Regions from separate parts of the Homo sapiens genome. Here region 1 is linked to region 2. Evidence: fine-mapped QTL for protein levels in blood plasma. Region 2 holds a variant in brackets. A gene starts in the other region. All regions are shown on their forward strands.

Evidence for each region. A credible set is the group of variants that fine-mapping cannot tell apart. PIP is the posterior inclusion probability: the model's chance that the variant is causal. Protein levels are from antibody-based Olink assays in UK Biobank. Linkage for the fine-mapping came from a reference panel and not from the study's own genotypes, which makes the PIPs less certain.
Region 1: DDC starts here. The variant in region 2 is the best candidate, but not a certain one, in a credible set for the plasma level of the DDC protein (UK Biobank, PIP 0.56).

The regions. Positions count from the first base shown.
Region 1 is chr7:50,564,368-50,575,609 of GRCh38, forward strand. DDC (dopa decarboxylase) reads right to left here and starts at 1,038. Exons shown (of 15, transcript NM_001082971.2): 1 at 918-1,038. RefSeq lists an enhancer at 5,901-6,426.
Region 2 is chr9:93,122,421-93,133,499 of GRCh38, forward strand. It overlaps NINJ1 (ninjurin 1), which reads right to left. Exons shown (of 4, transcript NM_004148.4): 2 at 3,990-4,218; 3 at 2,479-2,642. The coding sequence ends at 2,488. It overlaps LOC124902212 (a long non-coding RNA gene), which reads left to right and starts at 10,592. Exons shown (of 3, transcript XR_007061665.1): 1 at 10,592-11,079. RefSeq lists a silencer at 2,494-2,658 and enhancers at 4,263-4,914, 5,672-5,731, 8,358-8,956, 8,957-9,554, 11,036-11,079. The variant G/A (reference allele first, on the strand shown) is at 10,262.

The DNA of each region.
Region 1 (11,242 bases), not on the chromosome of region 2:
TACATTCACATTTCGTCTCTGCCAGCTGCAAGATCTTATGCCATCCTCCTCCCCTCCTCTGGCTGTTTGCTCACTTGTGAAATGGGGATGTGACTGGAGGTGAAGAAGGCAAACCTTCTAGACAGAGCCCAATGTAAACTGACCACTCAGAAGTAATGGTTTTAACTCACGCATGATGGAGAGCAATGATTTCCATCGATTAAGCTTTGATTCTTATATACTTCCGACAACAGACTTAAAACCAGGAGAACTTCGACTCCTTGAAGTCGATAACCGAACAATTCTCCCAATAGAAATTCCTATCCGCATATGTTTTCAGATGGGAATTGTACTCAGCATGGCAAGTTGGTGGGAAAGATCTTCTAATTCTCCTCAAATCACACTGCATAGGTAGACACCAAATTGACCTCTAAGTAAACTATAACATACACCAAAAGGAGAGAGCCCTGACGGAGCCTCAGATGTTATAAAGGGAAGGGCAGAGTTCACATTTACTAATCACCTCCATAAAATCATGGGATTTAATCCTCACAAGGTAGATACTAAGAAAATCCTCATTTACAGAAGAAACAGAGGCTGGGGGAATAAAATACCCAACACCATCCCTGGTGGTGCATGGAAAAAATAGAATCACATCTGGCCCGCATTTGCTACTGAGCCAGTCATGAAATCATTCCCAGCACCTATCAAACATGTGTCACTGGAGTGACTGTGTGTGCATGGAGAGCCACCAAGTGCACAGCCCCCACTGAACAAAAACCCCTGCCAGCCTGCAGCAGAAGAGAAAGCACCACACAAGCTCCCTCAAGTGAGTTAACCTTTAAGCAAATGTTCAGTAACATGGGGCCAGAGAGTCAAGGTACATGTTGCTGTTTTCCACTACTACAATCTGAGTAGGTATAAAATCAGAGACTTACATGCTGGAAATTCGAATTCCTTACAGGGCTACTCTCCTTGATGGGATTCTCCAACTTTGGGGACTGAAGAGCATGTGGAGAAGCTGCTGAGGCACTCGGCACTGAGACAGTCACTCTTCTTGAAACTCCAAGCCACACGTTTCCCTCTTCTTGCATTTCCAGCCACATGTGCCAGTTAAACATTAATTCCTGATGGTGACAAAGGTCAAGGAAATCTTGAGAAATAGCTCGCCTCTGGGAATCCTGAGAGCACATTCTGAAGAGACTGTTTCATTCCAAATCCTGGAAGCTTGGATCTTTCTTATGTAATTCTACATACATCCCATCTTTTACTAAGCAGCCCTGATTTCAAGTTTGGAGCCCATTAAGTCATCTGATATGTTCCAGCCCTGCACCAGGTGATGCCTGCATTGCACACAGCCTCCTGCCCCTGAAGGCAGCCCCAAAGTAAGCCTGCACTTCCCGGTGCAGCACTCAGCAATATGGGTAAGATTTCCAGGTTCAGATATCAGCAGAACCCAGGAACTCACCTTCCTTCCCCAAACCCATCAAAATCATAGTTGAGATGCATGAAACAATACTCTGAGTGGAATTTGGACAAATTTATAAAAAAACCCCAAAGTCGATAGAATTTTATGAGAGCACAAAGCAGGGCTGAGAAAGCCACATTGAGAAGTTGAGCAGGCACAGCCTGCAGGGATCTTAGGAGCTGGTCTTTCTGGCAGACCCCCAGCAGCTCCAAGCGTGGGGCTCAGTGGGTGTGAAGAGCAGAGTGAGAGTGAGGCTGGCTGCGGGCAGCTCATTAAAGGACTGGAAACAAGGCAGAGAGGGCTGTCACTAGAGCCATTTGTCACAGGCTAGATGCAGGGAAGAGCTCTCCTTGCTCTATCCTAGGGGACTGGAGCAGGCTGGGGCGGGGCACCTAGGGTTCCTATTGTTAGGACTGGAACTGGAGAGAGAAGCAGAGTGACATTGAGGAGTCTCAAAACCTCCACAGGAGCCATTGGAGGAAAGAGGGAAAAGAGAAAGAATGGCAAGTGAGCCCTCCAATGACGCACACCCAAATGCTCCCGCCTGGGGTCTCACAGGAGCTGAGAACCGAAGAAGTGATTGTCCTTGGTAAGGGGAAGAGTGAGGGAAGGGCTCCAAAGAGGGAACAGCCTCTGCAAAGTTACTGAGGATCAAGCTCGGCATCTCCCAGGCCCTGACAGAAGGCCAACTCCTAAGGACCATTCAAAGTAGGGGAGGGGGAGTCTTGCAAGCCACGTTACGTAATTTGTATCCCCCCAACTGTAATAGAAGGCATTGAAGTGTTTCTAGAAAGCAGTAACCTTAGCTTACTTATGGTTTAAGATCACTCTGGCTCTGGGGTAGAAAATGGATCAGAGGGAGATAAGGGTGAAAGGGTTAGACCCTTTAAGTTGGACCACCAATTCCCACCACATTCCTTGGATTTCTGCACTTTCCTGCAAACCAGGAGTGAATTCAAGTGAATCCATTCTAGGAGATGGGCTGGGGGAGGGAGGGGGGGCTTGAGATGAAGAAGCGTGCTAATATTCCCCATAAGTGCGTGTGTGTGTGTGCATGTTAGGAGGTTGCTGGACAAGGGGAGGAGTCAAGGGGATGGAACGACTACCCAGTGATGAAGCCAGTGGGCAGGGGATGACGGTCATAGACTGAGAGGAAGAAGACTGGGGTGGACCAGTATTGGGTGTGGGGAGGTGAAGGACACCAAGGATTCAGTTTGGGAATTAAATTTCAGATATCCACAAATCGTGTGATTTGAGATGTCCAGTACAGCTCAGAAAAAGAGGCCCAGACAGGAAATAAAGTTATGGGTTGAAAGTGTTTAGATGATATTTGAAGCAATAGGACTGGAAAAAAAACATCCATAGAGAAGAGAGACCTCAGTTTTGAAATCCTCAAAAAAGTGAACTAGTAGTGTCCAACTACTGAGCAACAGTTATCTCTCAATAGAGAAATCTACATAGGAATCAGCATCCGTTCCCAGAAGGGACTCTTTTTACATTTCCTTTCTTCTTGCAGGTGTGGGATTTATGGGGAATAGGGGTGAGGCTTCGAGGACCAAAGAAAGAAATCTAGGGCAGGATTTCCCAACCATGGCACTTTATCAGTCAGGTTTCTCCAGAAAACTGGAAATAATAGGATATGGATATAGGAATATAAGAAGAGATTTATTGTAGAAATTGGCTCATGTGATTATGGAGGCTGGGAAGTCCCACAGTCTTCCATCTACAGGCCGGAGAACTAGATAAGCTGGTGGTGTAATTCATCCTGAGTTTGAAGGCCCAAGAGCAGGAGAAGATGGATATCCCAGCTCAAGAAGAGAAAGAATTTGCCCTTCATCCACCTTTTTGTTCTATTCTGGCACTCAACAAACTGGATGTTACCAGCCCACACTGGTGAGGATGGATCTTGTTTACTTTCTGGAGATTCCAATGCCAATCTCTTCCAGAAACACCCTCATGAACACAACCAGAAATCCTGCTTTACTGGCCCTCTGGGCATCTCTTAGCCCACTTCAGTCGACACATAACATTAACCATCCCAGCACTATTACATTAAGGGTGTATAATTCTCTGTGATGGGAGCTGTCCTGTGCATTATAGAATGTTTAGCAGCATCCGGCTTTTACTCATTAGGTGCCAGTAGTCCCCAGTTGTGACAACCAAGAATGTCTCCAGGCATTGCATGTTTCCTGGTGGCAAAATTGCCCCTGGTTGAGAAAGGCTGATCTCGTGTGACCTTGTAATGCCCCAGGGCAGGGGAAGGTAGCATGGGTTGCAGCCAAGGCTGTTCCTGGAAGAGGGTGAGTCTGCTCTTCCACAGGAGCAGCAACGGCCATCTCTCATGATGCCAGAGTGGCCTGCAGTCAGTCGCAACAGTGTGCATGTTGCAGGAGGGAGACTGCAGGTGCAGACGTGACTGTGAAAGAGATTCACAGTGCACCTGAGTGTGGCTCCTGGGAGCAGAAGAGACGGGGCTTCCTGCTGAGACCACTGTGTGCCAGAGCAAAGTGGGCACTGGGGGCTTTGCTGAGGCCATGGGTGAAGAGAGAGGAGCTCTACTGCTATGCCCACACTCTGGCCAAGCCCACAGACAGGAGTGTCAGGGGAACTGAGTTTTCCTGGAAAAGCCAATTTGTTTAGGAGCTGGTGAGAATATCAATTCTGTTTTCTTTTCTTCCAGCGTAGAAGTTTTTTATTTTAATGAAGTCCAATTCATCAGTCCTTTTCCTCCATAGATTGTATTTAATGGAGGAAACTGGTGATTTATCTAAAAGGTCATCATCAAACTAAACTAGATTTTCTCTTGTGTCATCCTCTAGGAGTTTTATAGTTTTGCATGTTACCTTTAAGTCTATGAACCATTTTGAGTAAAGGTCTAGATCTAGATTCTTTTTTTTTTTTTGCATGTGGACGTCCATTTATTCCACAACCATTTGTCAAAGAGCCTATCCTTTCTTCATTGTATTGCCTTCACTCCTTTGTCAAAGACCATTTCACCATATTTGTGTGGGTCTATTTCTGAGCTCTCTATTCTGTTCCATTCATCTGTCTATTCTTTTACCAATAGCACTTTCTTAACTACTGTAGCTTTGTAGTAAGTCTTTTATTCATTTACTTATTAATTTACTTACTTATTTGAGACACAGTCTCGCTCTGTTGCCCAGGCTGGAGTGCAGTGGCGCTATCTCGGTGCACTGCAACCTCCACTTCCTAGGTTCAAGCAATTTTTGTGCCTCAGCCTCCCGAGTAGCTGAGATTACAGGCATGTACCACCACGCCTGGCTAATTTTTGTATTTTTAGTAGAGATGGGGTTTCACCATGTTGCCAGGCTGGTCTTGAACTCCTTACCTCAAATGATCCACCTACCTCGGCCTCCCGAAGTGCTGGGATTACAGGCGTGAGCCACTGCGCCTGGCTGTAGTAAGTCTTTAAGTTGGGCAGTGTCAGTCCTCCAAGTTTGTTTTTCTCTCAAAAGTCTCAAATCATTGGCCTCAGACTATTGGTGGGTCATGGAATGGGTTTTGCAGGTCTCATGACCAGCATTTTAAAAAATGCAATAGAACAGAATAAAATATAAAACAGGAGACATTGCACCTAATGATGAAAATATTGCTTTCTGAACCTTTCAATGATGTACAGGAATATGTGTACTGGGTCATAATATAGAATGCATTTCTTACTGTAGGTTGTGATCAGACTGCAAAGGCCTCTATCAAGAGATGATCTCATTCTATAAAAATAAAGTGGGTCGAGATTTGTGAAATCTGAAAGTGAGGATTAATCAATGACTACAAAAAGCTAGACAAGGCAACTCATGGACAACTAGCTATGCCTATGTTTTCTATGTAATTTTAAAAATTACATTGAAATGTTCCATAGTCATGTATAGTTTTTCTTCTGTGAATTTCCTGCTTCCGTTTCTCATATGCCTTCTAGCCAGGTAGTGAAAAAGACTCAGCTTTTCAGGGGGACAGCCTAGTGCAATTTGGAATTAGGTTTCTCTGTTTAATTGACTTGTCTTTAGTGTGCCAGACCAGTCAAAGAATCCTGCATCAAAATCGAGAGAATGAACAAGCCTTCATCACCATAGCACATTTATATAAAAAGAAAGGGAAAGATGTTGTGGGAAGTCAGGGACCCCGAACGGAGGGACCTGCTGAAGCCGTGACAGAAGAACATAAATTGGGAAGATTTCATGGACATTTATCACCTCCCCAATCACTACTCTTATAATTTCCTATGCCTATCTTCACTTTAATCTCTTAACCCTGTCATCTTTGTAAGCTGAGGATATATGTTGCCTCCGGACCCTGTGATGATTGCATTAACTGCACACACTGATCGTAAAGCATGTGTGTTTGAACAATATGAAATCTGGGCACCTTGAAAAAAGAACAGGATAACAGCAATGTTCGGGAACAAGGGAGATAACCATTAGGTCTGACTGCCTGGGAGCCAGGCAGGACGGAGCCATATTTCTCTTATTACCGAAAATGGGTAAGAGAAATATCACTGAATTCTTTCCCTGGTAAGGAATATTGATAATTAACAGCCCTGGGAAAAGAATGCATTCCCAGGGGGGCCTCTAAAATGGCTGCTCTGGGGGGGTTGTCTGCTTTATGCAGTTGCAGATAAGGGATGAAACATGCCCTGGCCTCCTGCAGTGCCCCTAGGCTTGCTAGGATTAGGAAATTCCAGCCTGGCGAATTCTAGTCAGACCAGTTCTCTGCTCTTGAACCCTGTTAAGATGTTTATCAATGACAATGCATGCACAGTGGGACATGGAACTTCACTAGTAATTCTAGTTTCTCCCTGACCTTGTGATCTCGCCTTGACCTTCTGCCTTGTGATCTTTTATTGCCCTATGAAGCATGTGATTTTTGTGACCCACACCCTATTCGTACACTCCCTCTCCTTTGAAAATTGCTAATAAAAACTTGCTGGTTTTACGGCTCAGGGGGCATCATGGAACCTGCCGACATGTGATGTCGCTTCCGGACACCCAGCTTTAAAATGTCTCTCTTTTTTTTTTATTATACTTTAAGTTTTAGGGTACCCATGCACAACGTGCAGGTTAGTTACATATGTATACATGTGCCATGTTGGTTTGCTGCACCCAGTAACTCGTCATTTAACATTAGGTGTATCTCCAAATGCTATCCCTCCCCACTCTCCCCACCCCACAACAGGCCCCGGTGTGTGATGTTCACCTTCCTGTGTCCATGTGTTCTCATTTTTCAATTCCCACCTGTGAGTGAGAACATGCGGTGTTTGGTTTTTTGTCCTTGAGATAGTTTGCTGAGAATGATGGTTTCCAGCTTCATCCATGTCCCTACAAAGGACATTAACTCATCATTTTTTATGGCTGCATAATATTCCATGGTGTATATGAGCCACATTTTCTTAATCCAGTCTATCATTGTTGGACATTTGGGTTGGTTCCAAGTCTTTGCTATTGTGAATAGTGATGCAATAAACATACATGTGCATGTGTCTTTATAGCAGCATGATTTATAATCCTTTGGGTATATACCCAGTAATGGGATTGCTGGGTCAAACGGTATTTCTAGTTCTAGATCCCTGATGAATCGCCACACTGACTTCCACAATGGTTGAACTAGTTTACAGTCCCACCAACAGTGTAAAAGTTTTCCTATTTCTCCATATTCTCTCCAGCACCTGTTGTTTCCTGGCTTTTTAATGATCGCCATTCTAACTGGTGTGAGATGGTATCTCACTGTGGTTTTGATTTGCATTTCTCTGATGGCCAGTGATGATGAGCATTTTTTCATGTGTTTTTTGGCTGCATAAATGTCTTCTTTTGAGAAGTGTCTGTTCATATCCTTCGCCTTCTTGTTGATGGGGTTGTTTGTTTTTTTCTTGTAAATTTATTTGGGTTCATTGTAGATTCTGGATATTAGCCCTTTGTCAGATGTGTAGATTGCAAAAATTTTCTCCCATTCTGTAGGTTGCCTGTTCACTCTGATAGTAGTTTCTTTCACTGTGCAGAAGCTCTTTAATTTAATTAGATCCCATTTGTCAATTTTGGCTTTTGTTGCCATTGCTTTTGGTGTTTTAGACATGAAGTCCTTGCCCATGCCTATGTTCTGAATGGTATTGCCTAGGTTTTCTTCTAGGGTTTTTATGGTTTTAGGTCTAATGTTTAAGTCTGTAATCCATCTTGAATTAATTTTTGTATAAGTGTAAGGAAGGGATCCAGTTTCAGCTTTCTACATATGGCTAGCCAGTTTTCCCAGCACCATTTATTAAATAGGGAATCCTTTCCCCATTTCTTGTTTTTGTCAGGTTTGTCAAAGATCAGATGGTTGTAGATATGTGGCATTATTTCTGAGGGCTCTGATCTGTTTCATTGGTCTATATCTCTGTTTTGGTATCAGTACCATGCTGTTTTGGTTACTGTAGCCTTGTAGTATAGTTTGAAGTCAGGTAGCATGATGCCTCCAGCTTTGTTCTTTTGGCTTAGGATTGACTTGGCAATGCGGGCTCTTTTTTGGTTCCATATGAACTTTAAAGTAGTTTTTTCCAATTCTGTGAAGAAAGTCATTGGTAGCTTGATGGGGTTGGCACTGAATCTATAAATTACCTTGGGCAGTATGGCCATTTTCACGATATTGATTCTTCCTACCCATGAGCATGGAATGTTCTTCCATTTCTTTGTATCCTCTTTTATTTCATTGAGCAGTGGTTTGTAGTTCTCCTTGAAGAGGTCCTTCACATCCCTTATAAGTTGGATTCCTAGGTATTTTATTGTCTTTGAAGCAATTGTGAATGGGAGTTCACTCATGATTTGGCTCTCTGTCTGCTATTGGTGTATAAGAATGCTTGTGATTTTTGCACATTGATTTTGTATCCTGAGATTTTGCTGAAATTGCCTATCAGCTTAAGAAGATTTTGGGCTGAGACGATGGGGTTTTCTAGATATACAATCATGTCATCTGCAAACAGGGACAATTTGACTTCCTCTTTTCCTAATTGAATACCCTTTATTTCCTTCTCCTGCCTGATTGCCCTGGCCAGAACTTCCAACATTATGTTGAATAGGAGTGGTGAGAGAGGGCATCCCTGTCTTGTGCCAGTTTTCAAAGGGAATGCTTCCAGTTTTTGCCCATTCAGTATGATATTGGCTGTGGGTTTGTCATAGATAGCTCTTATTGTTTTGAGATACATCCCATCAATACCTAATTTATTGAGAGTTTTTAGCATAAAGCGTTGTTGAATTTTGTCAAAGGCCTTTTCTGCATCTATTGAGATAATCATATGGTTTTTGTCATTGGTTCTGTTTATATGCTGGATTATGCTTATTGATTTCCATATGTTGAACCAGCCTTGCATCCCAGGGATGAAGCCCACTTGATCATGGTGGATAAGCTTTTTGATGTGCTGCTGGATTCAGTTTGCCAGTATTTTATTGAGGATTTTTGCATCTATGTTCATCAGGGATATTGGTCTGAAATTCTCTTTTTTTGTTGTGTCTCTGCCAGGCTTTGGTATCAGGATGATGCTGGCCTCATAAAATGAGTTAGGGAGGATTCCCTCTTTTTCTATTGATGGGAATAGTTTCAGAAGGAATGGTACCAGCTCCTCCTTTTACCTCTGGTAGAATTTGGCTGTGAATCCATCTGGTCCTGGACTTTTTTTGGTTGGTAAGCTATTAATTATTGCCTCAATATCAGAGCCTGTTATTGGTCTACTCAGAGATTCAACTTCTTCCTGATTTAGTCTTGGGAGGGTGTATGTGCCGAGGAATTTATCCATTTCTTCTAGATTTTCTAGTTTATTTGCATAGAGGTGTTTATAGTATTCTCTGATGGTAGTTTGTATTTCTGTGGGATCGGTGGTGATACCCCTTTATCATTTTTTATTGCATCTATTTGATTCTTCTCTCTTTTCTCCTTTATTAGTCTTGCTAGCAGTCTATCAAGTTTGTTGATCTTTTCAAAAAACCAGCTCCTGGATTCACTGATTTTTTGAAGGGTTTTTTGTGTCTCTATTTCCTTCAGTTCTGCTCTGATCTTAGTTATTTCTTGCCTTCTGCTAGCTTTTGAATGTGTTTGCTCTTGCTTCTCTAGTTCTTTTAATTGTGATGTTAGGGTGTCAATTTTAAATCTTTCCTGCTTTCTCTTGTGGGCATTTAGTGCTATTAATTTCCCTCTACACACTGCTTTGAATGTGTTCCAGAGATTCTGGTATGCTGTGTCTTTGTTCTCGTTGCTTTCAAAGAACATCTTTATTTCTGCCTTCATTTCGTTATGTACCCAGTAGTCATTCAGGAGCAGGTTGTTCAGTTTCCATGTAATTGAGCAGTTTTGAGTGAGTTTCTTAATCCTGAGTTCTAGTTTGATTGCACTGTGGTCCGAGAGACAGTTTGTTATAATTTCTGTTCTTTTACGTTTGCTGAGGAGTGCTTTACTTCCAACTATGTGGTCAATTTTGGAATAAGTGCACTGTGGTGCTGAGAAGAATGTATATTCTGTTGATTTGGGATGAAGAGTTCTGTAGATGTCTATTAGTTCCACTTGGTGCAGAGCTGAGTTCAATTCCTGGATATCCTTGTTAACTTTCTGTCTCGTTGATCTGTCTAATGTTGACAGTGGGGTGTTAAATTCTCCCATTATTATTGTGTGGGAGTCTAAGTCTCTTTGTAGGTCTCTAAGGACTTGCTTTATGAATCTGGGTGCTCCTGTATTGGGTGCATATATGTTTAGGATACTTAGCTCTTCTTGTTGAATTGATCCCTTTACCATTATGTAATGGCCTTCTTTGTCTCTTTTGATCTTTGTTGGTTTAAAGTCTGTTTTATCTGAGACTAGGATTGCAACCCCTGCCTTTTTTTGTTTTCCATTTGCTTGTTAGATCTTCCTCCATCCCTTTATTTTGAGCCTATGTGTGTCTCTGGACGTGAGATGGGTTTCCTGAATATAGCACACTGATGGGTCTTGACTCTTTATCCAATTTGCCAGTCTGTGTCTTTTAATTGGAGCATTTAGCCCATTTACATTTAAGGTTAATATTATTATGTGTGAATTTGATCCTGTCACTATGATATTAGCTGGTTATTTTGCTCATTAGCTGATGCAGTTTCTTCCTAGCCTCGATGGTCTTTACAATTTGGCATGTTTTTGCAGTGGCTGGTATTGGTTATTCCTTTCCATGTTTAGTGCTTCCTTCAGCAGCTCTTGTAGGGCAGGCCTGGTGGTGACAAAATCTCTCAGTATTTGCTTGTCTGTAAAGGATTTTATTTCCCCTTCACTTACAAAGTGCAGTTTGGCTGGATATGAAATTCTGGGTTGAAAATTCTTTTCTTTAAGGATGTTGAATATTGGCCCCCACTTTCTTCTGGCTTGTAGAGTTCCTGCCGAGAGATCAGCTGTTAGTCTGATGGGCTTCCCTTTGTGGGTAACCCGACTTTTCTCTCTGGCTGCCCTTAACATTTTTTCCTTCGTTTCAACTTTGGTGAATCTGACAATTATGTGTCTTGGAGTTGCTCTTCTCGAGGAGTATCTTTGTGGTTTTCCCTGTATTTCCTGAATTTGAATGTTGGCCTGCCTTGCTAGAGTGGGGAAGTTCTCCTGGATAATATCCTGCAGAGTGTTTTCCAACTTGGTTCCATTCTCCCTGTCACTTTCAGGTACACCAATCAGACGTAGATTTGGTCTTTTCACATAGTCCCATATTTCTTGGAGGCTTTGTTTGTTTCTTTTTATTCTTTTAACTCTAAACTTCCCTTCTCATTTCATTTCATTCATTTGATCTTCCATCACTGATACCCTTTC
Region 2 (11,079 bases):
GGGGAGAGGAGAGGCTCTGAGCCTGGAAGGAGGGAGAGGAGAGGCTCTGAGCCTGGAAGGAGGGAGAGGAGAGGCTCTGAGCCAGGCTGTGACAAGCCCCGAGTGTCAGGGCCATTTGCACACCCGGACTCAGGAAGGAGAAGAGCCTGATTCTGACATGAGAGGTGTCAAAGTACTCCATGCCTCAGTTTCCCCTCTGAAAATGGAATGAATATAGCATGGCTGGGTTACTGCCAGGACTTAGAGGCCTGGCCCAGCATGGGGGGCTCGGGTTGGGCAGCTGTGACCATAGCCACCCACGAAGCCTGAGACCTCTCTGACTGCTCCACGCAGGACACACAGCAGCTTTGGCCTCCGAGCCTCTGAGGACAGCTTTAAGGTCCACTGCTGGGTCCCCACGTGGCCCACAGACGCAGCACCCTCTTCCCGGCAGGCAGATAACTCATGCTTGGGAGAGTTAGGGACTGCATTCAGCACACACAGCAGGTGATTAATAAATGGCCTGGCCACATGCCCAAGCCAGGGAGCAGCTGACATCTAGGTGTTCTGGAAGAGGACAACTTAACTACAAACTGGAGGCAGCATCTGGACAGTGACTCGGACCCCACATGGGGCCGCCCAGATCCAGGTCCTTTCAGGAGGGTGACTTCAGGCTCCACGGCCGGGACATTGGGGGCTGGCGTGATCCCACTGGGGGAATGGCCTTGGGTGTGGTAGGGGAGCTTGAGAGGCCATGGGCCACTACGAGCAGCGGTCACTCGTTGGCCCCCGTGTGGGGAGGGGTGAGGCCAGGTGGATGCAGGGTGCTCCCAACCCAGCTGCTGGCCCCAGCGCCCCACCTCATCCTCACTATGCCCTCTTGGGGAATTTTTTTTTTTTCCCGAGATGGAGTCTCATACTGTTGCCCAGGCTGGAGTGCAATGGCGTGATCTCAGTTCACTGCAATCTCCACCTTCCAGGTTCAAGCGATTCTCCTGCCTCACCCTCCTGAGTAGCTGGGATTACAGGCATGCGCCATCACGCCTGGCTAATTTTGTATTTTTAGCAGAGACACGGTATCTCCATGTTGGTCAGGCTGGTCTCAAGCTCCCGACCTCAGGTGATCCGCTTGCCTCAGCCACCCAAAGTGCTGGGATTACAGGTGTGAGCCACCGTGCCTGGCCTGGGGAAATTTTTATATATCCTTGACACACAGGCGCTCTGCCCCAAGAGCACTGCTCCTGTCTACTCTGCCATGGGCCACCACTGGTGGAGAGATGGCCACCTGCCAGGAGTGCCCACCCCTCCCTTAGCAACTCACCTCCACCTCTGCTACAAACCGGAGGGGTGACCCCTAGGCCTAAGGTCGCGGGGACTGTGGTGTGTGGCCCTGGCCTGGCTGCATGGACTGTAGTGTGTGCACCATGTGGCCCTGGCCATGGCTGCATCCCAGGCCTTCCTGTGGATCCTGCTCCCAGGCTGTGTCACTGGGCAGACGCTCACCCTCTCTGAGCAAGGACACAGGGAGAGGCTGTATGTGGTGTGAGAAGTCTTCCTACACTGGGTGCCTCGTCCTGTAGAGACAGCCTCAGTCTGCATCCTGCACACAGCCAGGGTCCAGCCTAAGGCAGGCAGCTAACAGATTCTGCGAGGCCCGGCAAGGGGCAGACTTGAAGAGTCACAAGGGCTCCACGTGACAAGATCCTGAATCCCACCGTCCTGGTCAGAGTGGCACAGTGAGGTGGGCATGTCAGGCAGGCGGTCATACCAAGGTCCCTTTTTCTCAGACGAGGGCTGGGAGGAAGCTTCACCTGCTAAGTGGAGCTGATAAGGGGTGCAGAGCCCCTGACTTATCAAGAGAAGCCGGAAATCTTTGGGTTTTGGGTGTTTTTTGAGACAGAGTCTCACTCTGTCGCTCAGGCTGGAGTGCAGTAGTACGATCTTAGCTCACTGCAACCTCTGCCTCCTGGGTTCAAGCGATTCTCCTGCCTCAGCCTCCTGAGTAGCTGGGACTACAGGGATGTGCCACCATGCCTGGCCACTTTTTGTATTTTTAGTAGAGACGGGGTTTCACCCTGTTGGCGAGGCTGGTCTCGAACTCCTGACCTCAAGTGATCTGCCCGCCTCAGCCTCCCAAAGTGCTGGGATTACCGGCATGAGCCACCGCGCCTGACCCAGAAATCTTTTTTTTTTTATCGGACAGACATTCTGAATGTATAGAAATCTTACGTTTAAGTGAGTTCTCCAGGATGTTCAAATGGTGGCTCCTACACACATTCCATCTAAACACTGTGACCACAGGACCCCAGGTGGCCAGCACCAGTGGCAGGGCTGGCCTCAAGGCAGTGGCCAGGCATTGGCCTTGTAGGTGTGGACGAGGATGCCCATGGCCTAGGAAGGTGTCCAAGGCTGGCCGGCCAGGGACTCACCACACTGCAAGAGCCTCCAACAGCGAGCAACCCCAGGACTGCAGGCCTCGCGCCCCATCTCCCAGCTCACCTGGGTGTCCTACTGCTGGGGTGCCATGTCCATCAAGGGCTTCTGGACCCCGAAGGCCGTGATGAAGATGTTGACTACCACGATGATGAACACCAGGCCCGTGGCCAGGTTGTTGAGGAAGTCCAGCTTGGCGTGCTTGGCCGGGTTGTTAAGGTCGTACTTGACTGTGGGCGAGAGAGGAGTGGATGGTGCCAAGGGCAGCCCAGACGCAGCGCCCCAGCCTGGGACAGTGGAAGGGGACCCACCCCAGCGGTCAAGCTGTCCTGGGACATTACAGGGCTCTCAGTCGCATTTAGGATGAGTTTTGTCGCCCAGAGAAAAATACATCTGTTTTGCTGAAACATGGACAACAGCGCCCCTGGCTTGGGCAACCCCACGGTCTATGACCCCACCTTCTGTAGCCCCCATATTTTCCTTATACGAATTGAAGCTATGGACGTCAACCAAAGGCCAGGTTTGGGCAAATGCACTGAGCCCTTTGCGTGCCTTAATCTAGTGATTCCTGCCACAAGCTGCAGTTCTATTATGATGCCTGTTTTATAAGTGAGGCCCGGGAGGTTCAGCCACTTGCCCAAGGTTACGCAGCCATGAAGGGGACCCTGGGCCCAGAAGGTAGGACTGGCATGACTGAGGCCATCTCATGGCATGGGTCAACAAGAACCCGGTGAAACACCTGCCCTAATGCCCACAGGCCAGGCCCTGACCCCACTCTGTGCTCTTTCAAAGTGCAGGGTGGGGCCAGGCACAGTGGTTCATACCTGTAATCCCAGCACTTTGGGAGGCCGAGACAGGAGGATCACGTGAGCCCAGGAGTTTGAGACCAGCCTGGGCAGCATAGCAAGACCCCGTGTCTACCAAAAATAAAAAAATTAGCTGGCATGATGGCATATAGCTGTGGTCCAGCCTACCTGGGAGGCTGAGGCAGAAGGCTCGCTTGAGCCTGGGAGGTTGAGACTGCAGTGAGCTGTGATCAAGACACAGCAAGACCCGGTTTCAAAAACAAAACAAAACAAAACAAAACAAGGCTGAGCGTGGTGACTCATGCCTGTAATCCCAGTATTTTGGGAGACTGAGGCTGTTGGATCACTTGAGCTCAAAAATTCGACTGGGCAACATGGCGTAACCTCATCTCTACAAAAAATACAAAAATTAGCCGGGCATGGTGATGAGCGCCTGTAATCCCAGTTACTTTGGGGGCTGAGGTGGGAGGATCGCTTGAGCCCAGGAGATGCAGCTTGCAGTGAGCCGAGACTGCGCCACTGCATTCCAGCCTGGGTGACAGAGGGGGACCTTGTTTCAAAAAACAAAACAAAACAAAACAAAAACCAAAGTGCAGGGTGGGGGGAGGGGGGGTGCCACTTCCTGGACTGCATGTCTGGGTGATGAGGGCCAGGAACTCGGCAGCTCCTTGAGAGCCAAGTGTGCAAGGTGGTGGGCACCTGTCCCAGGCGATGCGAGCAGATGCCAGCAAGGTGAGCAGGTGGCCTGGCTGCCCCCACCTGGGGACCTACCAAGGAAGATGAGCAGCACCCCCACGCCGATCTGCAGCACAAGGGAGATGGAGATGAGGACCACCAGGGGCACATAGAAGGCGAAGCTGGGGCCCTGTTCCACGACGGCCTTCAGCTGGGACGCGTTGGCCATCAGCAGCGCGATGTCCAGCATGCTCTCGGCTGCGCTCTTCTTGCTGGCGTAATGGTTCACGTTGATGGGCCCGTGCCTCCAGCCCCAGCGGGCCGGCTGCAGGGAGGGGAATGGTCAGCAAGGCGGGTGGGGGAGGGGGGCAAGGGCTGTGCCTGAGTCGGGCTCTGGGGGTCACCGGGCCCTGCAGGTGAGGGCTTCCCTTGCCCCCACCCCTGGTAAGTGCTCAGACAGAAGTGCTTATTACCCTAAGGAGAGGCTGCGAGCATGTGCTCAGCCTTTATAAAACCTCCCCTAGGAATACGGTCCTGGAGAGAAAGGAAACGACATAGCAACCTTAGCACACGCACTCTGATTTTCCACTGGAAAGCATTGCCCGATCCTCCCACTCCTGCCATAGGCGGGGCTGCTCCTCCCTGCCTGCCCCTACCGGTCTGTGCCCCCGGCCTCCTCTCCCCCTCCCCTCAGAGTCTGAGCTCCTGATGCCAGGAAAGGAAGTGACGTGTGGGCGGACAGATCTGTGCACACCGGCCCAGGCAAGAAGCAAGTCCTCCTGGGCCGGACCTAAGGGCAGAGATCGCCCCTGCCACCTCCCAACCTCCCAGCCTTGGGGCCCAACAGGCCACTCGCCTCCAGGCCTCAGCACAGGCCTTGCAGAACTATTCGGCCATTAGCAGCAAGACTTCACTGAGGTGGGCCACCCAGAGCCCGGCCCCGACACAGCAGAGGCTCAACAGATGCCTCAGCATACGACATACAGTGGAGCTTAGCTTCCACATTACTTCCCAGAGTAATAAAATGGGAATGCGAGTTCTGATGGAATCCTCTTTGCCTTAGGGGCCTATCTGGTCAGGGCCCCCTGCAGTTCTCTCGAAGCCCCCAATGCCTTTCCCTGGTGCCAGACACTCTCAAGCTCCAAGGCCCCACACAGAGGCCACTGCTTCCAGGAAGCCTCCCAGGACTTCCCCTGGCAGGACATGGCCCTCTCTCCTGCCACAGGAAGGTCCTCTCTAGGGCTGGCCCTTCATTCCAAGCTAAGTACCAAACTTCCTCTTTCTCTGGAGCAAGAGTCTGCCCCTCTCAAGCTGCCCTGGTGGGGCCCTCTTCAGTCACTCAGGACAAACCTGCCAGCCCCTTGGCCCGGCCCTTTGTCCACAGGCGCCCCTGAGTTGCCAGGCCCTAGACCACAGCCTCCCAGGACTGGTCACCTGCTTGGAGGCAGCTGTGAGAACCCACTGCTGGCAGCCAACCTCCTGGGGCCCTCTCTGGGAGATCCTGTTTCCAGACTCATGAAAGATGCAGGCCGGGAGGCCGGGGTGCCGCAGGGCCACAGGGAGGGGCGGACATGGTATCCATCCAGGCCTCGACTTTCTGCAGGCTGGAAAAATACACGAGGCAGCCAATACAGAACCAGCAGAGGGCAGGGGCCTTGCTTTCATGCTGCGTGTTTTTCAGTTTCATCTAAAATTATGTGCCCAGGAGGAAGAGAGTGGGCGTCAGGGGACACTGGTGGGCTCTGCTGCTTACACCTGGGCCTGGGAATTCCAACAACCTGCCTTCAGCATCAGCTGCTCTCTAAGTAGCAAGTTCACGTGGACACATGTGCGCACAGGGACAGCCGCCTTTACCTGGGCCACCCAGCAGCGCTGTCCCTGGGGCCCTGGTGTGCTCTCGGGTCACTCCATGCATACCCCGAAGCCTCTATGGGGTGTCTACTTTGCCTCTCCCACCCTGGGCCTGACGCTGCACTCCCTGGGATTCCCCCAGGCCCCAGCACAGCCAGGGCACTCACCAAGTGAGAGGCTGTGTTCCTCTCCCATTCTACAGACCAGCAGATTGCAGCTTGGAGGAGGTTTGCCCAGAGCCACCTCCCAGGACTGTGTGTCCCTGTCCCACCACTGTCCACTTAGGGGCTTCCTCCCAGGCTGCCCAGGGTCTGGGTGAGGACAGCCCGGACACAAGGGCCTGTGCCTGGCACTGAGGTCGTCTCCAGTTCTGCTCTTGCGAAGCTGCCCAGTGGGCCACACCCCATCACACGTGTGCTCCGCAAGGTGCAGTGTCCCAGGGGCTGCTGGCCACAGTGGGCATGTGCTCCTAAGTTTCACAAACCTCAAGTGCCAAAGTGCCTTCCTTCAAGGCCACCCTTATGCTCATTCGGGTCTCCATCCCAGGACTTGGTGCTGGGAGAAGGCCAAGTGCAGACCCCGTGAGGATTTCCACCTTCTGGGGGCATCTACACATATATGTGCGTGTTCCTAGTCACAAAAGCACAGAAACACACATCCCCCAGAAAGACACACATAGACGTGAGACACACATGTGCACACAATACGCACACACAAATACACATGCACATACATACATATGCACACGTACATAAACAGACACACAAGCCCAGGCTAACTGTGTTGGCCTCTGGGCAGGAGGAAGAATTCCCTTTTTTTCTGAGCTCTGCAGAACCATTTAAATATTTCACAGCCATGCAGTCACGAGGAACACTCAGATCCATTAAAAAGCACCATCCGCGCAGAGCCTCCAGCTCCCCAAGCCTCAGCTCTCAGCACCCCCAGCCACGAGGAGCCTGTGCCCCTGCTGTCCTCATGCCCACTTAAGGTGGGTAAACTGAAGCCCAGCAAAGGCGGTTCCTTACCCAAAGCCACATAGCAAGTGAGGGCTTGGCTAGGATTTGAACCCAGGCCCCGGGGCTCAGAAGCTCTGGTAGCTGATGCCATTGTCCCTTAGGGGCTGAACTCTCAATGGCTCCCTGCTTCAGGCTCCAGCTGTGTCCGGACAACTAGCCCCACTTTGTGCCTCAGTCTTCCATGTGTACCACGAGGCTGTGGAGCAGATGCCCCAGGATGGCCTCTGAGCCCCGAGTGGCCAGCAAATGCCCTGACCATGCACCCCTGCTGGTGAAGGGCACTTCCAGCCCATCCGGCCATCTGCTTCCTGTCCAACCTGCAGCTAGGGAAGCTTCTGCATGCAGGTCAAGCCCTGGCTCACCACAGCCCAGCCCGTGGCCCTGACGCAAGCTCCCCCTCCGTTGGCCTCAGTCTCCCCCTCCGTATATCTAGGGTTGCACCTGGGAAACTCCTGCTTACCAAGGGAGAGGCTGTGTTCCTCTCCCATTCTACAGACCAGCAGATTGCAGCTCAGAGGAGGTTTTCCCAGAGCCATCTCCCAGGACTGTGTGTCCCAAAGCATAGGGCTGCCCCAGGATACAGCATAGCTGGCAACCACCCCAGGCAGCAGGCCACATTGGGAGCATCATGTGGAGGGGAGGGCAGCAGGGACAGTCTGCTTCCCTGTCCCTAACCTTGGTACTCTGGGCCTTGGAGCCCTGAGCTGACCACCACACAGGAGGGTCCCAGGGAGGACGATCCCACTCTCCCCCAGTCCTGGGCACTTGCCTCTATCTTGGGATGGGCCTGAGGGTGGCCGGGGGACCCAGCTACCACAGGTGAGGGAGCCCTGTGGTCCTGACCAGCCAGCAGGAGCTGCCAGGAGCTAAGCCCTGCTGAGACCAGTGCCCATGGCTTGGGCAGGGCAGGGAATAAACACCCTGGTTAATAGATTCCCAGAACCTCAGCAGCACTCGGGGCCTGGGGCCAGGCCAGATATATTTCCTCTGAAAGCTAGGAGGGAGGCTTGGTGAGGAGGTCAGCTCTGTGTAGGGGCGTGGCTGGCTCCTCATGCAACCTTCTGTGGACGGTCGGCCTCCCCACTGCAGGCTGCACATGTTGGGGCTGGGCCACACGGTCGGTCCTAGGGCCACTTCAGTGAGCATCCTCAGCTCAGGCAGGAGGGGCTGGCACAGAAGTGGGATATGAACCAGGCTTGCTGCATCCACCGGCCTGGCTCTGGCCATAGCATAATGGGTGTTCTGGCTCACCCAGGGCTTGGATGGGAGGAGACAGGGTCGGGGCTGTGGGCCCACAAATGTGGTGATGCATATCAGTCGCCCTTTCCAGGGGCCTGTGAGGAGTAGGGCTGGAAGCTGCCACAGCACCTCCTTTACCCCCCGAGTCCTGCCTCAACACTGACCACTCTATGCCTCAGTTTCCTCATTTGTAAAATGGGTAGACAAGGATGTGGAGGGGACTGAATGGGGTGGTCTCAGATGCCCCGTGGCTGGTGGAGCGCATGGCAGTGGGTGGCAGGGCTGTTTTCCTTGATGCCTGGCTCTCACTGTTTTGAAAGACTCTGCCTCCCCGACCAACTCCACTGACTCAAAAGCAGCTGAACAGGCTCACAAAACAGTCACACAGCAAAGAAAGGACAGCCTGGGGCACAGGTTCTCCTGTGCTGAGCAGGACCCAGGGGGACAACAGGGACGAGGTGCCTGCCCTGGGTGCCTGGGGGGTCCCAGTCTACACCTTGGCTGCTCGCAGCCTGTCCTGCTCACTGGCCCTAACCCTTGGACTCAGCAGGCATTGGCAGATGGTGGGGCGACCTGAAAATCAGGCACCCCTCTTCTACCCCACCATATGCTAGGACCTGCCTGGGGCTTCCGGCATCCCTTGTCTGACCCACCAGTGTGGGCATGAGCTGCTGTGCCCATTCCCCAGATGCCACACAGACAGGCAGGGCCTGGCACTGGAGCCCTGCACCGTCTCCTACCGGCCAGCCCAGGAAGCAGGCCCTGAGAGGGTCTCCCAGCTCCATGTCTGTGTTCCTGGCAGGAAACCCCAGCAAGACAGCAGGAAGTGCTGGAAGGCGGGGTTCCCACCACAGCTGGGCCAGGCAGACCCACTTCCCGCGGACTCAGCACTGGCCACGAGTGGCCCTGAGACCATGTTAGGGTTGCCTTTTAGAACTTGGCCCAGACCCTGCCGGCCTCAGGATCTGCCAGGAAAGCGGAAATGAGGAAACGAGCAAACCTCCTCCTGGGCAGCTGAGGCCATGCACGGCCCAGACGGCAGGTATACAGGGCACAGCTACCTACCTCCAAGGACCATGCCTCTCGGCCCAGATGTGGCCCCAGGAACCTTCAACCTGCGGGCTGTGAGGGGCAGGAAGGTGTGGCTGGCACCAGATGGCCGTGTCCTAACCCCATCCCCACCACCTCCCTGCCTTGAGACACCCTGGGGATAACAGATTCAGGCCATTTTCACATTAACATTGTTGTTTACTATTCCTTCTGCTGACAGCCACAAGTGAGCTGACTCAATCCCTGGACACTGATGGGGGCCCTCACATGAAGGGCCACAGGGGCGCAGGGCACACGGGGTAGGGGAGACCTGAGAGCTTCCCACGGCCGTGGCCCAACAGAGCCCACCCAGGTTGGAGTTCCACGTGTGGCTCCTCCCTGAGCCTTGTCCACCCTGGGAGGTGAGCAGTTGTGCCCCATTTTACAGAAAAGGAAACTGAGACTCTCCATTTTACAGAAAAGGAAACTGAGGGAGCTGGGCAAAGCGCTGCCCTCTCCAAACCACTGCCAGGGGTCACCAGTGGGAGAGGGTCTCCGTGGCAGGCAGAAGGATGAGGGCGCTGAGTGCTGGCCTGGCTCTAAGCACTTCATATACATCAGCTACTGAGTCCTCACCACTCTCTATGGCAGGCACCGCGACCACACCCATTTCACAGATGAGAAACTGAGGCACAGAGTGCTGACATGATGTGCCCAAGAAACGGAGAAGCAAGGTCTTGAGGTTGGGAAGAGGAACAGGTGTGTTGGGTGGTCCTGGGCCCCCAGGCTGGGTGAGCAGAGCGGCCCTCGAAGTTTTCTACCCCTCAAGGGGAAATGTGCTCATCCTCACACTGGCTCATAGCCTTTCCACAGCTCCCTGGACACCAGACCGTGATCAGGCCTGCAAGGCCCCTCCCATCGGCCTGGCTTCCCATCCCCCCACCTCCTACCTGGCCCTCATGTGCTCTGTGGTCCAGCCTCTGAGCCTTTGCTCCCACTGTTCCCTCTGCCTAGATGCCCTTCCACACATCTCAGAGAGCCAGATCTGCTCACCCACCTTCCCTGCCCTCCAGGGCTCAGAGCCAATGTCCCCACCTCCACAGAAAGCCTTCCCTGACCACCATGCCCCGCCCCCCACGATGGGCTCCCAGCCCCCAGGGAACCCCCTGCTTTGCCCTGGCCTCTCCTGCCCTGTCTGGGCTGGGCTGCTCTCCAACCGCGGCTTGGTGGGGC[G/A]GGGCTGTGTCTCTCTCCCTCTGGTGCCCAGAGCCAAGACAGTGATCCGGGAACAAATCCAACCCAATCTCCTCTGGGCTTGAGATGCACCCATCTCAGGAGGCACAGCCTATCCTGCCGCCCGCAGAAGTGAGCAGAGACTGCTCTGAGTGGAGGGCATTGCCCGGGCAAGGTCAGGGTTGGGGGAGGAGCAGTATCCCTTCCTTTCCAAGGCGCTTCCAAGCCACTGACCTGTTTATTACCTGACTTGCTTTCCCCACTTCCCTGAAGGCAGGAGAGACCCTTTGTTCTCTCTTTATAAGACCATGTCTAAAAGGCCCAGCGAGGTGTGGCAACTTCCCAAGGACACACAGCCGGAGGAGCCCCCTGCCTATTGCTCCAAAGTGCTCACACACTGGGGCAGGGCCAGGTCGCTGGGGTCCCGCACACCGGTCAAGTCCTGCAGTGCGACAGCTCCTCTCTAACCTAGGAACAAGTGTCCATGCAGCCCCAGGGCCATCCTATCCCGTGGCTCATGGGGCCCCGCCTCCCCGAACATGTCCTGTCCCCACAGCACCGGCCTAGGACTGTTCACCAGCGAGTGGGCAGAGTGTCTTTGCCCCAGTCTGGTCCACGCCATGGAGAGGCCTGGAAAAACCCAACAGGCTGCTGTTCCCTGCCCCCATCCCTGAGGGGGTTAGAAAAGGAAAGAATGTTCAAAGTAAACAAGTCACCAGAGGGCCATGCCAGGACCTTGCAACAAACACAAGGTGCTCAGTAAGTGCTGAGTCCTGGGATGAAGAATTCTGAAGCGGGACCACTACCAGGGCCTGCCCCCT